Linked DNA regions of Homo sapiens. The protein of the gene in region 1 purifies or fractionates together with the protein of each later gene. This does not show direct contact. Each region holds a gene or a part of one and is shown in the gene's direction. Other genes may lie near its edges.

What was found.
Region 2: the proteins of CDS1 (region 1) and TSPAN6 purify together in Homo sapiens (affinity purification with mass spectrometry; 2 studies listed by BioGRID and IntAct, with this or other methods). This does not show direct contact.

Annotation. Positions count from the first base shown.
Region 1 is NC_000004.12:84,578,344-84,586,163, forward strand, and holds the start of CDS1 (phosphatidate cytidylyltransferase 1), read left to right. Parts: upstream 1-4,783; 5' UTR 4,784-5,058; coding exon 5,059-5,175; intron 5,176-7,820. UniProt on the Homo sapiens protein: Catalyzes the conversion of phosphatidic acid (PA) to CDP-diacylglycerol (CDP-DAG), an essential intermediate in the synthesis of phosphatidylglycerol, cardiolipin and phosphatidylinositol.
Region 2 is NC_000023.11:100,633,807-100,641,747, reverse strand, and holds the start of TSPAN6 (tetraspanin-6), read left to right. Parts: upstream 1-4,941; 5' UTR 4,942-5,053; coding exon 5,054-5,140; exon of another isoform or gene 5,141-5,557; intron 5,558-6,001; coding exon 6,002-6,190; intron 6,191-6,495; coding exon 6,496-6,570; intron 6,571-7,718; coding exon 7,719-7,817; intron 7,818-7,941.

The DNA of each region.
Region 1 (7,820 bases):
AGTTAATAATGGGGAATGCCAAATTCATTAATTGTACTACCTCAGAAGGATAAGGCACAAATTAACTAATTGGGTAGGCTGATTTCTTTGTACTTGTTTGCAAAGTCTCTCTACCCCATTTCATAATTTCTACCTACCTCACCAAAGCAATATCAGCATATCCTTATTTCTTCACAGTCCTCTGGGGTGTTGCAGTTTAGCGAATTTAGAAGTCAAATATTGTTCTCCTCAAGAAATGTAGCTTTCAATAATATGAATGATAGTAATAAGTAACACTTGTGTGGTGCTTCACGATGGCCAGACACTATTCTAAGTATTTTACATATATTAACCAGTTTAGTCTTCATAAGAATCCTAGGAAGAAAATATTACCTTATCCTAATTTTGCACAAGGACACTGAAGCTAATTGCCTAAGGCCAGTAGGTGGCAGAGCTGGGATTTGAACTCAGGCTAGCTTCAGAATTTATGTGCCTGTTATAACAAACTAACCCCCACCCCCAGCTTTAGAAGTTGCTTGTTTCTGCTGCTATATATTTGTACTACATCATGGACCAGGCAGATTTTGAAGTATAAAACTTAATATAAGTTTTATACTTATACTAAGTATAAAAACTTAGCTTTCCTTTCTAACCCTTTACATCTAAGCCTCAGGTTTTCTTCCTTGTAAAACAGGAGTAATATTTGTTATGCCTAGCTTGTAGATTGTTGAGTAGAAGAAATGAAATAATGCATGCGAAAGTGCTTTGTAAAGTGTTATGTAAAGAATTATTACTTAAATTATGAAGGAACATGTCATTTAGGATATAGCTTCAGCTGTGTTTGATGAAAATGTTGCTGAAAGCAAATTAGGTCACAGCTAGATTCAAGCTATGATTCAAGCTAGGTTCAAGCTATGACTCAAACCCAGGGTTCTTGGTATAGAAACTCCATACTTCTAACTACACCATAGCACTCTCTCCTCTGATACTCTCTCACTACAATACTTGATAGTACACCATTATTTTCCCGTGCAATTCCATTAAAAATAAAAATGTAAATATAAGTTGTTTTTCAAGATTTTCCCATAAAATGTTTCTCTGGTGGCCTAAATCAGAAATTCCTACCTCTAACTTATAAACAAAGCTGACAGAGGGCAACAGAGAAAGATAGGTCAAGCGACAAAAGCTGTTACTTGGGTATCTAAGCAACTGGAAACGCTTGGCTGAGGAAGATTTCTTCCGCCCCTGGCAAGCTGGGGACATTCCAGCAGGGCACCTTTGAGCCTCTGATGTGAAAAGCAGCTCAGATTCACATTCCCACCCCAGAGGGGCATGTTTATCAGTCTGGGAACATTCTGAGGGTATTCAGGGAAGAGTGGTAACAAACTGCTTCATCTACTCTCACTACTTCAGGCAACGTCTCTGCATCTTATGCTCTTATTACTTCCAGCAAAAGAGAAGGTAAACAGTAATCTAAAATAAAAACCATATAAGCAATAACGTTAGCACTCTCTCTCATCTCTCTAGCAAATTCCTCATTAGGAGTTAGAAGGTGAAAAAAAATTTTTTTTAAAATTTTTTTTTTAATTTTTTTGAGATAGGGTCTCACTCTGTCACCCAGGCTAGAGTGCAGTAGAGTGAACAGGGGTCACAGAGGCCTCGAACTCCCAGGCCCAAGCAATCCACCCGCCTCAGCTTTCCAAGTAGCTGGGACTACAGGCACACGCCACCATGCCCAGCTAATTTTTAAATTTTTGTGTAGAGATGGGGTCTCCATATGTTGCCCAGGCTGGTCTTGAACTTCTGGGCTCAAGAGACATTCATGCATCAGCCTCCTAAAGTGCTGGAATTACAGATGTGAGCCACCACGCCCGGCTGGAAAATCTTAAAATCAATCCAAGAAGTGCTGGCTGGGTTGTACTACGTGATTAGGCCCATGCATATGCTTAGGGTTTCCATGAAGCCCTTCAGCAGGATAAATACAAGAAAAATTAACAGGTAAAGCCTTAGAAACCATTACACGCCAGATTTTGTGTTACCAAACACAAATACAATAAATTTAGAGAACATAAGTTCCCTGAATGAAAACGAAAGATAAAAATAAAAAAGAAAGAAAAAGGAAAAATTAGAAAAAAGACATAGAAAAAGTCTGAGAACACAGAGTTCCGTAAGCCAGTTGTGGTTGAGTATATTGTACAGTATCTTAAGTAAAATAAAGTCATTACTACAACCACTTTTAATAAGTATTAAAATCAACTTCTCTCTGATATAAAGTGAAAATGAAGAAAAGTGTCTATGTAAGTCTAAAATAGACTTTAAATGAAGAAACCATAAATACTATACATTCATGGGTTGCATAACAATGTTTCAGTCAACAATGGACCACATATACCACTGTAGCCTATAAGATTATAATACCATATTTTTATAGTACCTTTTCTATGTTTAGATACACAAATACTTACCATTGTGTTACAGTTGTCTAAGTAATAGGCTATACCATGTAGCCTGGGTGTGCAGTAGGCTATGCCATCTAGGTTTAGTATACCCTGTGATGTTGCCCAATGATGCATTTCTAAGAATGTATCCCCACTGTTAAACAACATATGACTGTATAAATTTCCCTTGTTGTGCTATACCTTTGCCATCCCATCATTTCTTCATTCACCTCTTCAGCAAACATTGTTACCTATAGAAGGGTGGTTTTTGGCACTGTGGAAAGAGCTAGACCTGTAAAGATGAATAAGCCAGTTTCTGCTGTCTGGACTCAGTCTATTCACTCAACTAGTGGTAATAGCTATAATGAAGAAGATTGAAAGAAATTGCTCTCTTAGCTAAAACACAAGAAGGAGCAGAGCTTAAGGAAGGTGAGGTAAGTAGAACCTCACATTCTATTTTGGCAGTCTTTGCATTGGTCCCACTTTTCCTGGGTTGGGGAATACTGTTTCTTCTATCACGCACTACTGTCCTCTGTTGTTCCCCTCTGTCACTCCTCTCACTCTCTTTTTTCCTCCTGCAGCAAAGGGAAAAAGTCAAAGAGGCCATGAGAGGACTAGGCAAAGGGGAAACAGGAAGTTGTTCAGGTACCTTGTGTAGTAGGTCTCCTTTTCTTGGACCATGGGGGAAAGCAAAGGCTGGATTCTGATCGTCTAAGAGCTAAAAGGGACCACAGAGGCCATCCTTACTATCCGTTTACAGCTGAGGACACTGAGGGTTAATAACTTACCAAGGCCATGCAATTAGTGGCATTGGCAGCACTAGAACTCAGGCTTCTTGACTTCCAGAGAGTTAGAATGGAGCACTTCTAATCCTTTATGCAGGGTAGGGTAGTAGCCAGAGATGGAAACCCTACTACTGGCTTCAGCCATTATTCTGATTATCTTCTTCACTATCAAGCACTCCTTCATTTCCGATCCTCCAAACAATTGGACAATTTATTAATGTAGTCACCCCATAGTTCTCTGTTCAGTAGGGACTTATTTTCAAATCTTCTCTGTCATTTCAGTTATCCACCCCATAAGGAACAAATTATGGTTTCTCGACATCCTTTTGAAAACGTGCAACCCAAACTAACCGCACAGCTTCAAAGATCTGTTTGGTGAGGTAAAATGATGTCTTTGTGTTCTGCTTTTCAATGCATCCTAATTTGACTTTTGGTTTTGCTCATTTGTTAGTAAATTTTCAACACTTTACTTACTTTTACCGTGTCAGTAAAGACCTTGAGGAATTTACATAGTTGATCTATTTCTATAAGGGTGCTCTCCTGAACCTTGTCCTGTGTGAAGGCCCGCCTTTTTTCTTTTTTCTCTTTGTTTCTCTCTTTTTTTCATTTGTTAGCTTGTCAGTAATGACCGGGTGGCGGATACATGTCAAGAAAACTAATCACCTTCTAACAGGATTAAGACTAGAATTAATGCAGATCTTGTGCCCTTCCTGTTCCCGCTTTGGCAGCCCAAGGTCCACCACTGCTCAGAGACTAGCTGGAGGGCAACGGCGTCCCATAGCATCTCACACTGTGTTGGGATCCTAGGTGGTGACCTTTGTGAGATTCAGTACTGAGTTTCTGGGAGACGGCGCTGCGGTTGTGATCGGAATTGTTGGCCGACGCACCTCTGGACGCCCAGTGAGGCAAAAGCATCTCCTGTTTTCAAGGTGATGACACTGGGCTGGAATGCCGCGGGGCCAACCAGTCCGTCCTGCCAGACAAGTTTCTGGTCCAGTGAGCCTCCGACCCGCCGCGCGTGTCAAGCTGACAAGGCCGGGGAGGCGTTTGAAGCAGCAGTGTTGAGCGCTGTTAACATTTAGCGGGCGTCTTTGAGTAGCTCCTCCAGCCCTCGCAGCGGCCCAGGGACTAGCCTGCAAGTTCTCAACGCTCACTTCCAGCCCGCGCTGGCCCCGCCTCCGCCTCCCAGCTCCTCAGCCTCCTCCCGCCCCACCGCTCCCACCTTTTCTCAGGCCCCCACCTGCCAGCACGCAGAGGCGGGGGCGGGGTCGCGGGCCGGGCTCCTGACGTCACCTCACGGGGAGGCGGGGCTGTGGGAACCGCAGTGCAGCGCAGAGGGGCGGGGCCTGCGGCGCGAGACCTGGTGCGGGAGGCCCGGGCAGGGAGAAGTGTGCGGGGCCGGGACAAGCCGGCTCCGAGTCCGGCTCCGGGGGGCGGGGCGGGAGGGGCCTGCGCGGCGGCGGGAGCCCAGAGCCGCGCTAAAGCGGGTCAAGCGTCCTCCTTTTCTCCCCGCCCCTTCTCCTCCTCCTACCTGGGCCTCTGCGTGGAGACGCGCACCTGGCAACCGGAGGCCGCGTCTCCGCCTTCTCTGCTCGCGCCTGGCGCCCGGAGCCTGCCCGGGACCTCCGCCGGAGCCGCGCTCGCTGCAGGCGGCCTCGAGCGCTCTCTCGTTGATGCCGTTTTGGAGGTGACCGGCGCGGCGGCCGCTCTATGGTGGGGCCGCGTTAGTGGCTGCGGCTCCGCGGGACTCCAGGGCGCGGCTGCGAGGTGGCGGGGCGCCCCGCCTGCAGAACCCTGCTTGCAGCTCAGGTTTCGGGGTGCTTGAGGAGGCCGCCACGGCAGCGCGGGAGCGGAAGATGTTGGAGCTGAGGCACCGGGGAAGCTGCCCCGGCCCCAGGGAAGCGGTGTCGCCGCCACACCGCGAGGGAGAGGCGGCCGGCGGCGACCACGAAACCGAGAGCACCAGCGACAAAGTAAGTGGAGCCGAGAGAGGCGGACGCCGCGCCCTGGCTGGGTCCTGGTTGGAAGCGGGACACTTGAGAGCAAGGGTGGGGCCCGTCCAGCGTCAGGTGAGGCTGCACGCTGCCGGTGCACCTTCCTCCCTGCCTGGCACTGCTTCCTCCTTCTCCAGAGGGGGTCGGGACCCGGGATCCCAGTGGCGGTGAGGTTCCCAGGATGACCGCGGCCGCTGCCCGGGAGAAATGGGCCACTCAACCCGGCTTACAGTTTAGCTTCATCCTCTTCCGGTCCCTTCTTCAGGATCTGGGGCCGACGCTGGAATCAGGAGGGAACCTGTCCTCCTAGGGGCTGCAGTGCAGTTAGTAGCTGCCACCTCACCTCTCTTTTCAGTAGAGGGAACAAAGTTAGTAAGGACTAGAGACGTGCCACCGTCGGCTGTATCATTTCATCGGATCCTGACGCGGGAGGCTTGGCTTCTCGCGCTGCCCCATATGCACTTACATTTTCTCCATCCTTTTTCAGTATGATAGATTTTGGAGGTTTTAGAGTATCATGCACGTGACATAATAGTAATCTTCCAGCTTCTTTTGAGTACACGACAGACAGTGCAATTCTTCTGTCTACCAGTAGATTTCATATAACCCGACGTTAATTCATGAAGACTTTTCACTTCCTTTTCTATAGATTACTCTTCTTTCACATTTAAGAATAAGTAGATGCGATATTACTATCTGTTTAAAGCTAGAAAAGGAATTCGGGCGTGTTTGGTAATATAGTGGTGCAAGTAAGAACTTGTGAAGAAATGCAGTTTTATGATCTTATGGACTGGATGGTTTGGGAAATTGGACCAGAGAATAGATTGTTGTATCAAACCGTCTGTTTAGAAAATTCCATTTTATTTGAGAAACCCAAAACACGTAAACTGTTTCTAGAAGCATACTTTGGAAGCAGGCATTGCAGTTTGAATTACAGAAGTGAGGTGGATTGCCCAAGGTCAAGTTCGTGGCTCTTGAAACTAGAATCTAAGTTTCCTGATTCCTTTTCTTCTGGTTTATGTGGTTGCTGAGACTGGCTGGCAGTTCTGATTTGGGGAGGATTCCACCTGAAAGTTGATGTTGATGAGTTTGATGTAACCCAAATTACAAAGCCCTAATAGGAACATATCACATGATATCACGAAATAAACGTAAACGTGATTCTTAGTACTAAAACTTTAGAATCAATGGAATCAATGTAGTGACACTTTTCCCCTTACCCTTGATAGTAAGTAGAATAAAATGAGTCTGTAATAAAACATAAGTGTCAAGGAATTACCCAAAATATAACAATTTCCAGCTACTGAAGGTTGAAGTTACAAAACTAGGAACAGTGGGCTGAGAATAGTCTTTGTGAAAACTGCCTTGGAAACTAGACCCAAAATAGAATTAATTAGGTTGGGATTTGTTTTGTTTTGTTTTTAGCACTGGTATAGTTTAGCATCAAGGAAATACCAGCTTCTCTATGCTGACTTCCTTAACTCGACAAAGCTAACAAGCTTTTGTTAAGAGAAAAGATGTTCAGGAAGCCATGCATAAAATACCTTCGGAATTAAGTTTTTTCTTTTTTTAACACCATAATGTATTTAAAATGGAAACTACTTCTGTAGTGTGATTTGACTCATTAGAACTGTTGTCTCTAGCTATCTGTGACTAGGTTACCTCGCTGCATATTTATTTATTTATCAATGCAGTACTGTTGGTTTTTATTGACACATGTCCAGCTGGATTTTGTTTTCTGAAAGTAGACTTTGCTATATGTAACCTGTTTTGTCAAGATTTCTTAGACAAGGATGAACATATTCAAACCATATCTAAAATACTGCTCTACTTTTAGAGTTTATCATGAGGAACTTTTGACTTGGCAAGCTGATAGATATTGAACTCTATCCCTGTCTGTCCTTTCTTATCAGGGTGTGTATTTGAATACACCTGTATTTCCAGGTCAAGGGCTATTTTAAAATCAGTTTGCACACTGGAGGCTGGTTAATATTTGGTCAATTCAAACTCATTAAGGGCCTTCCCTGTTCAGTTGCAGTAAAGGCAAAACTCTTGGGGAATTAGTGAAAGAAGTGAAGGAGGTACATTATATTCTGCTATTATAATACACTCCCATGCATTGCCATTTTGTAGTCTTTTAATAATGGTGTTATTAACATGACACTCCCTTTGTTCCGGACTGGTGACTTATGCTGAGAGAAGGCTCTGTACTCCAGATAATTAGCAAGTGAAAAAAATACTTCTTACCTGCAGAGGAATGTTCCCAAGTGTTAAATGTTGGAGTGGTACTTGAAAAATGACAAGGGACATCTTCAAGGAACCCTGCAGGAGACATATATGAGTTAGATTTATTGGAAGTCTGTACAAGGCTCATTGTTAGCATAGAGGGCATGCTTGGCGTCTACCTGGAGACTGTAGGAAAAGCTCTAAACAGTGGATGAGGATTGAGCTGGGAATGAAAAGATTCCTGGGACTCACCAGGTTTACAAGGGTTTGGGTAGGGTGTTCTAGGCAAAGGACGTGTTGGGTTTTTTCTTGAATCAGCATTCTAGGCACAGGGTTGCAGATACAGAGGAAGAGATAATGAAGGTCCTGAGAGCAAAAGGAGGAGGCATTGCTTAGAG
Region 2 (7,941 bases), on another chromosome or scaffold:
TCCTACTAGACTATGAGTGCTTATAAGGGCAAGAACCTTATCCTAGTCTTCTTCATATCCCCAGCCATCCAACACAAAGCCTAGCACATGCCAGGGTGAAGATGCTGCGTAAGGCCTCAATCCCACTGAAAGCTGGAAGCAGTGGGACAGAAGGGTTCCAGAGAGAGGTTAAAGAAGAAAGTGAAGGGGGAGAATATGGAAATCATAGGGAGATCAAAGTAAGGGGATATGTCAGAAGAGAGAGACAGCATTCTTGCAAAGCATTGGGATTAATAATATAAAGAGCTCACCCAAAACAAGTGAGGTTAATTATAATAACCCCAATGTTTCTGCAGCACATACTCAGTGTGTAAAACACAACGTTAGATACTGTGAGGCTACAAAGTAAAATAAAACACCTCTCTTTATGGTTTGGTTGGGAGGATAAGACAAAGGTGGATAAGGAGACTGACAGCATCCAGGCATACTCAATTTCTTAAGTTTCTTAAAGTTCAGTACCATTTTCAACTTTAAGACTTTTAATATGAAGCCCCTCAGCAGTAAATAAGGTATTGTTTTACGAAATATTAGATATGGAAACTGACTTCCCTAGTTGAGATCTCAGGAAAGCTCAACAAGGCTAGACTAGAAACAACTTTCTTAGAAAATGGACATAGAATTGTCAATTTTAATACCATTTAAAAGTATTTATGGCTGGGCGCGGAGGCTCACGCCTGTAATCCCAGCACTTTGGGAGGCCGAGGCAGGCGAATCACAAGGTCAGGAGATCGAGACCATCCTGTCTAACACGGTGAAACCCCGTCTCTACTAAAAATACAAAAAATTAGCCGGGCGTGGTATCGGGCACCTGTAGTCCCAGCTACTCGGGAAGCTGAGACCAGAGAATGGCATGAACCCGGGAGGTGGAGCTTGCAGTGAGCCGAGATGGCACCACTGCACTCCAGCCTGGGCGACAGAGCGAGACTCCGTCTCAAAAAAAAAAAAAGTATTTATCATGTCTATGTGTCCCAAACTGTATATTATGAGCTTTTTTGAAGAAGGCAAGATCAGGGATGGAAAGGGAGGAAAGGTTTCACAGAGCATCTGAAAGGAGTGGATGGAAAACAAGGGCATAAAAATAGACAAAGAATAGAATTTCAGAGAAGGAGAATGGGAATGCACAAGAGACAATAGAAATAAAGAGATATTCCATTAACGAAATGGATTTTTAAAACTGTACATATGAATTAACTGTTTAAATAATGAGGTATCTGATGGCTGTAACATAAAATATGAGATATTAAGAAAATAAGTAGGATGCGCCTTTAAATTCTATGATAGGCACTTAGCCAAAGGTAATTGAAGGGATGCTAGAAAAGGGATTAGAAAATGAAAATGGTAAAGTTATTATGTGAATAAGAGATAAGATGTACACTCAGCGATACAGTTTATTATTATTATTATTGTTGTTGTTATTATTTTAGTGGTTCCTGAGAGAGAGAGGAATGTCCCAAGACATTATCTAGGTACTCAATTTAATTTTTTCTGTTTTATTATAGTGTGATACTGGGATGGCTTAGACATTTAATTTTTTATTTAATTTCAACAATCAATCCTGAGTAATTACTATGTGGTTGCTCCCAGAGACCAGTTATGACCTCAATGAGCAATCAGCTCAACAGGGATTGGCCGAGCAGAAAATGAACTCATCAATTGGGCATTATGTCCTAGGGTACTGAGGAGAGTATAAAAGGGGGCATAGGGGCCCTGCCACACTAGCTCTTCAGTAGTTTCTGAACATCTAGACGGTAGGATGTAGAATAGGTAAGTAGAAATGCAAAGCAGATATTGCAGTAATTGACTAAAGGGCTGGGTTAATGGGAGTGAGTGTGTAGTTAAGACAGTTATGGTGTTAGAGAAAGAGGTGAGGAAGGAGGGACTTTTTACTGAGTTGGGATTGAACTGGATATTCAGTAGAAGCAGAAAGTATGAGTGAAGTTGAGGGTGGGCAGGGACTAGGGAATAGGACTTGTTTAATTGGGGGGTTGATCATACTGACCTGGTACAGAGCAGAAAATTCACATTGGAAAAGCAGTAGGAAATCAGTTGAGATTGTATTGGGATGAGGGGCTTGGTAGGGATGGAGGGAGGCTGGAGGTGGCACAAGGGAGGTCTGACTTAACAGTGAGCCCTTGTTTATGTCATTTCCCTTGCCTGATGTCTAGCAATGAAAAACATTTACACCTAATCTTGAAGGTTACAGGAAATTAATTGGGAAGGGGGGCTACTAAATGTTCCATGTAAAACAAGCAGTAACAATACTTAAAGTATTTTCCTTTTTTCCTACATTGTTGGCATCAAATTGTGTTTCTGTGCTCAGAAAGAGGGAGAAATTAAGAGGTTGAACAAGAAAAAGTACTGAACTCTCTGCCTTACCACTCTGGGGCAGGTAGGGTTACTTCCTAGGTGGCTGGGCTATTGGAGTGAAGGCAAAAGCCAAACTCAACCAAAAAACCCCAAGTGCAAGGCAGAATTGGGGCAATCATTGAGGTTCTTAAGCTTCAGAGGCTCCGAGGAGTCCTTGTTTTAGGTTAAATGTCTGTGCAACAGCAGTCTTTACTCAGGTTACTCTGCGCAGAGGCAGCTGTACGTACAACAGCAGCTATGTTTCATCACAAAGTGGGCCCCATTTCTGATGAAAGACACAGAAGTTGCCCAGGTTTAGTCCTAGGCAGCTTACTTGGTCTCTTTCAACCTGTTTCTTCATCTGTAAAATGAAGGTGCTAGGTGTGTCAACCTCATAATAGGGTTCTTGTGATGTGTGCATACGAGGTAATGTGTATCAAGCTCTTAGCAATAGTGGTTGGTATACAGTCAATACTTATTATCACAGTCATTATTAATACTTTAAAGAATACATTTATCTAGTGGCCTAGGGAAATACTTCTTAAATTGCCTTAAACGGGATTAGATGCCCCTTTGGTCTGGGTTTGTACCCAAACCCAGGCCTAGGTTTGAACTAAATTGAATTTCTCGGTTTGGTGGCATTGTGGGGGTGGGGAGATGGAAGTGGGTGTAGCAGAGTAGGAGGCAATGGTGCAAGGTGTTGTAGCCATAGGAATATGAATTTCCATGTCAGCATTTGGTTTAATTTGGCACCGAGTGTTATTCAAACAAAGCAGCGTTGTGAGTGGTAGAGGAAGGGAGAGGAGGAAAGTCAACACATTCTTGGAAATAAGATGTGGCTTTTGCTTTGCTATTTTGTTTTTTCTTCAGCTACAGACATATTTCTTTGCTCTTGGGCTCACACTGTAAATCCCTTTCAGTACATATCTAAGTTTCAGAGAAACTTCTCTTTAAGATGACAAGAAGTTATCAAGACTTCCCTTGATCCTTGTTTTTAGTATAAGAACCCTTCAGTTGGGGTCATTTAGCCTAGGGAGAAATCTTTGCATATACTTAGACACCCCCCTCCACCATGTTGAATATTTGGTATTTCCTAACGACTTTACCTCAAAGTGTTTGAAGGTGTATGTAGATGTATCGTTTATCCATTCTCTCCATGTATTTGTGTATTAGGCCTTTCAAATTTTAGTAAAAATTTTAGTATAAAGCCTGGCAATGCAATAATTAATTTTCCAACAGTTGCTGCCTTGCACCTCAGACGTCTGGCAAGATGTTATAGGAACTGGTCCTAGGTCAATATTCGAAGCACAGGGAAGCTCTGTGTGACCAAGTCAATGGAACTTTCCTGTGTTCTGGTCCTGAGGTGTATGTTTAAAGCAACGTTTCAAGCAGAAAAGTTTGAGTATTCATCTCTCCTCCACAAATGCAGGTCTTTTTGCAATGGCAATAGAGTAAATAGCCACTTGTGATATTAAGCTTGTGTCAATGATGAAGGGTTGGATTGCATAGGGAACTGATACAGCCTTCTAACCCCGTTCCTCTAGAGATAACACAAACTCACTTAACACTCAGTCTCTGCCTTCAAAGAGCTGACGCTTTAGTTGAGAAATCAGACCTTAACGCACCTCCTGTGTTGTAACAACATAGACCAATATATTCACAATATATAACATTAGGTTTTAATCTCTCTGTAATCAGCTGGGTTTTGATGGGAAAAACCAGGTGGCTGGAATGTACAGTGCCTTTCTGTTTTAACATTTAAGAGGAGGTCACACTCACCAGGGATTTTTCCATTGCACTCTCTCTTTTTAAAAGTTTACAGCGAATAGCTGAACTTACATTTCACTATTATGTAAAAATACTTTCCCTCAACTTTCCAATTACTTAGGGGATAAAAAAGGAGAGGAATACTGGGGTTTTGCAAAGTCCTGCAGGTAAATTCTAAAGTCATTATTATCTTTAATACCTAGCTTAGAAATTCTTTCAACAAGTGGTGATTATTTTCCTCCATTCACATCTCCCCTTCCTAACCCATAAAACAATGTTCACAAATTGAAAAGCACACAAGTGAGAAAAAAATCAGCCTAATTCCACCAGAGGTAAATTTCACTGTTCCTTTCAGTTTTTGTCTAAGCACACGTGACTGTATGTATTGCTTTGCAATCCGCTTTCTTTTTGCAAATATATTTCTTGTGGGTATTTTCCCATGTATTTTCTTAGGTCGCTTTTAACCTCTTCATTCTTTTCCTTCTCTCTAGGGCACCAGGGGCCAGGGAGGCCCAATCTCAGAGCGCTGCGGGCTCTGCTGGTGATAGAAACAATATGGTGAAGTTATAAGGAGAGGGGAGGGGTGGGGGGCGGGAAAGATTCCTTAGGATAGAAAAAAAACAATGAAGAAAGCTCCACTTGAAGACCTATGAAATTTCCGACACTAGAACCTTTGTATATAGTTTTCGGTAACCTTCGGCAGGGGGCGCTCTGAAATTGTTGCCACTTTCCGGACAGCCTCCCATACTTTACCCTCTACAAAATTGTACAGTGTTTCCGGCCCTTCTCAGTTGTGGACGCTCGTAAGTTTTCGGCAGTTTCCGGGGAGACTCGGGGACTCCGCGTCTCGCTCTCTGTGTTCCAATCGCCCGGTGCGGTGGTGCAGGGTCTCGGGCTAGTCATGGCGTCCCCGTCTCGGAGACTGCAGACTAAACCAGTCATTACTTGTTTCAAGAGCGTTCTGCTAATCTACACTTTTATTTTCTGGGTGAGAGACGAAGGCGCCTGGGGCCGGCAGGGGATCCCGGGCTTTTAGTTGTGGGGGGTGTGACCCTGAGCGGCGGGAGCTCAGGTCGGGAACGGTGTGGGGTTTGGGCGGCCATCGCGCCTGGGACCCCGACGCCGGCGACCAGTGACTGGGCCCCGAACAAAGAGCTCAGGCATCTCGCCGGCGCTGGGGTCGGAGTGCGGGACGAAGGCAGCCGAGAGGCTGAGCTGGGACCCAGACGTACCAGCGTTCGAGTTCGATACGGGAGGCGAGGTGGGGCCTTAAGCCCCCAGAGCACGCAGACGGTGACCCTGGACCTTTGCAAAGGCAAGCAAGGCTTGCCCGGCCCCTTTGAGGGCTCACTTGCATAATAGTGTCTTTCTTTTCACTGCTTCGTAAGAGAGGAGTGTTTCGCAGGTAAGTATGGTATGCCTCCACTCCCGCCAGTCTATCCTTGGGCTTGCTTTTGTGTACCAGTCCTTTGTACCCTGTGCCCATCCCTACCTGGAGAGGACGGGGGAAGTTTCTGGAACTCATAAAATCACGTTTTTTTTTTCCCCTTCAAGGTTTTCTTCCTAAGGTTGGAGTAAGATAGTTAAGGAAGTTTTGATCCCTAGGGCAAATATGCCATGGGCTTGTGTTTACACACAAAAAGATGAATTTTAAGAATTTTGATAAGATACCTGGTCCACAGCCTGCTCTTGTGTGCAGATCCCCCCCTAACCCCTTCTACTCTTCCCCCTTGTCTGCCGTATCCCAGCATATTACACCTATTGTGCCTTAAATACCTCATGCGTTGTGATTTGAAGATGCTGCTGTACACAGTGCGTAACTGTTTGTATTCTCTGAATTCCCACATAGATCACTGGCGTTATCCTTCTTGCAGTTGGCATTTGGGGCAAGGTGAGCCTGGAGAATTACTTTTCTCTTTTAAATGAGAAGGCCACCAATGTCCCCTTCGTGCTCATTGCTACTGGTACCGTCATTATTCTTTTGGGCACCTTTGGTTGTTTTGCTACCTGCCGAGCTTCTGCATGGATGCTAAAACTGGTGAGTCCTTGTTTTCATTAGAATTGATTCTTGGTTTTAGAAAAGTTTTGTATGTTATAGAATTCCTTTGTTGGAACTGGCCATGGCCCTTTACAATTTTTCCTGTTCCTTATGGAAACTTATCAAGTAACAGTTCAGCTGCCAGTTTCCACTTTCAAAATAGACATGTTGTTATTTTCCCTGCCCTTTTCAATGAAAACATGATGAACTAATTGAGAAGACGACCATTATTTTTTCTTTGACTCCCTTTGCAGTTGTGCTATATCTTATTTATGCTGACTTGGACTTTCTTTCTTATCCTGCAGTATGCAATGTTTCTGACTCTCGTTTTTTTGGTCGAACTGGTCGCTGCCATCGTAGGATTTGTTTTCAGACATGAGGTAAGCCTGAATTAGGGAAGCTTAGCATGTTACATTTATCCTCTGAGAGATAAAAATGGATTTATTAAAGTAGAAGAGTCAGACCTCTGTATTTAAACCTGTAGCTGACAATAATGGCCTTCTTGTAAAAATTCTGGTCCACTTCTAATTTAAAAGAAAATTTAGAAAATTGTAAAGACTGATAGTCACCAGAAGAAAATTACTTACTTATATTCCCTGTCGTTTTTCTGTGTATAAATACCTATTAAAACGGAGATAGTACAATTTATAACTTTGCTGATAGGAAAATATTCAAAGCACAAAATTGATAACCTTCTTATGCCTTGCATTTTGAAAAGATTGGATATACTTAATGCAAATCATCAGAAGTTTAATATTGGGCCGGGCGCGTTGGCTCACGCCTGTAATCCCAGCACTTTGGGAGGCCGAGGCAGGTGGATCACGAGGTCAGGGGATCGAGACCACCCTGGCTAACACGGTGAAACTGTCTCTACTAAAAATACAAAAAAAAACAAAAAATTAGCCGGGCGTGGTGGTAGGTGCCTGTAGTCCCAGCTGCTCGGGAGGCTGAGGCAGGAGAATGGCATGAACCCGGGAGATGGAGCTTGCAGTGAGCCGAGATCGCGCCACTGCACTGCAGCCTGGGCAGCAGAGCGAGACTCCATCTCAAAAAAAAAAAGCTTAATACTGAATTAGAAAACAGGTAAACTTGGGGTTGTTCAAATAACATTCGGTGAGTAGCAAAGGCTCATTAATGAGAGTTCTCATAAAGTGGTAGCACAGCCTCCCAAAGTAAGGTTTTGTAGCTTACAAATTCCATAGGCATCGAATTTGAACTCAGTTTAAAGTGGAGAAAAATTAGCAGGGTGCAGAATACAGCAATACTGCATTGCCACTCAGATAAATACATATTCCCACAGCACTTTGAACTTGTAGTGGTTCTCATCATATATTTTAATGTTTTGCTTAGTAGTCCCCTCAGCTAACCTATACCCCTTAGAGGACAGGACTGTACCATGGAAGTTAATTACTATACATGTTGCTGCTGTCAAAGATATGACCATTGGTCAGATTCGAGAACTTATTTGACCTGAAACCAAAAACTTTCTAGAGGATTTTCTTACTGACATTGTGTTTCTTTGCTATAGATTAAGAACAGCTTTAAGAATAATTATGAGAAGGCTTTGAAGCAGTATAACTCTACAGGAGATTATAGAAGCCATGCAGTAGACAAGATCCAAAATACGGTAAGTGGTAACCACCACCTAGAGGGGAACACATTCCCTGTTGCCTCAGAGAAAAGAGCAGAGTCTGGCTACTAGATGTTATCCACCTGTAGGGGAAAGAAGTGTGACGTGTTTCATTTTCCTC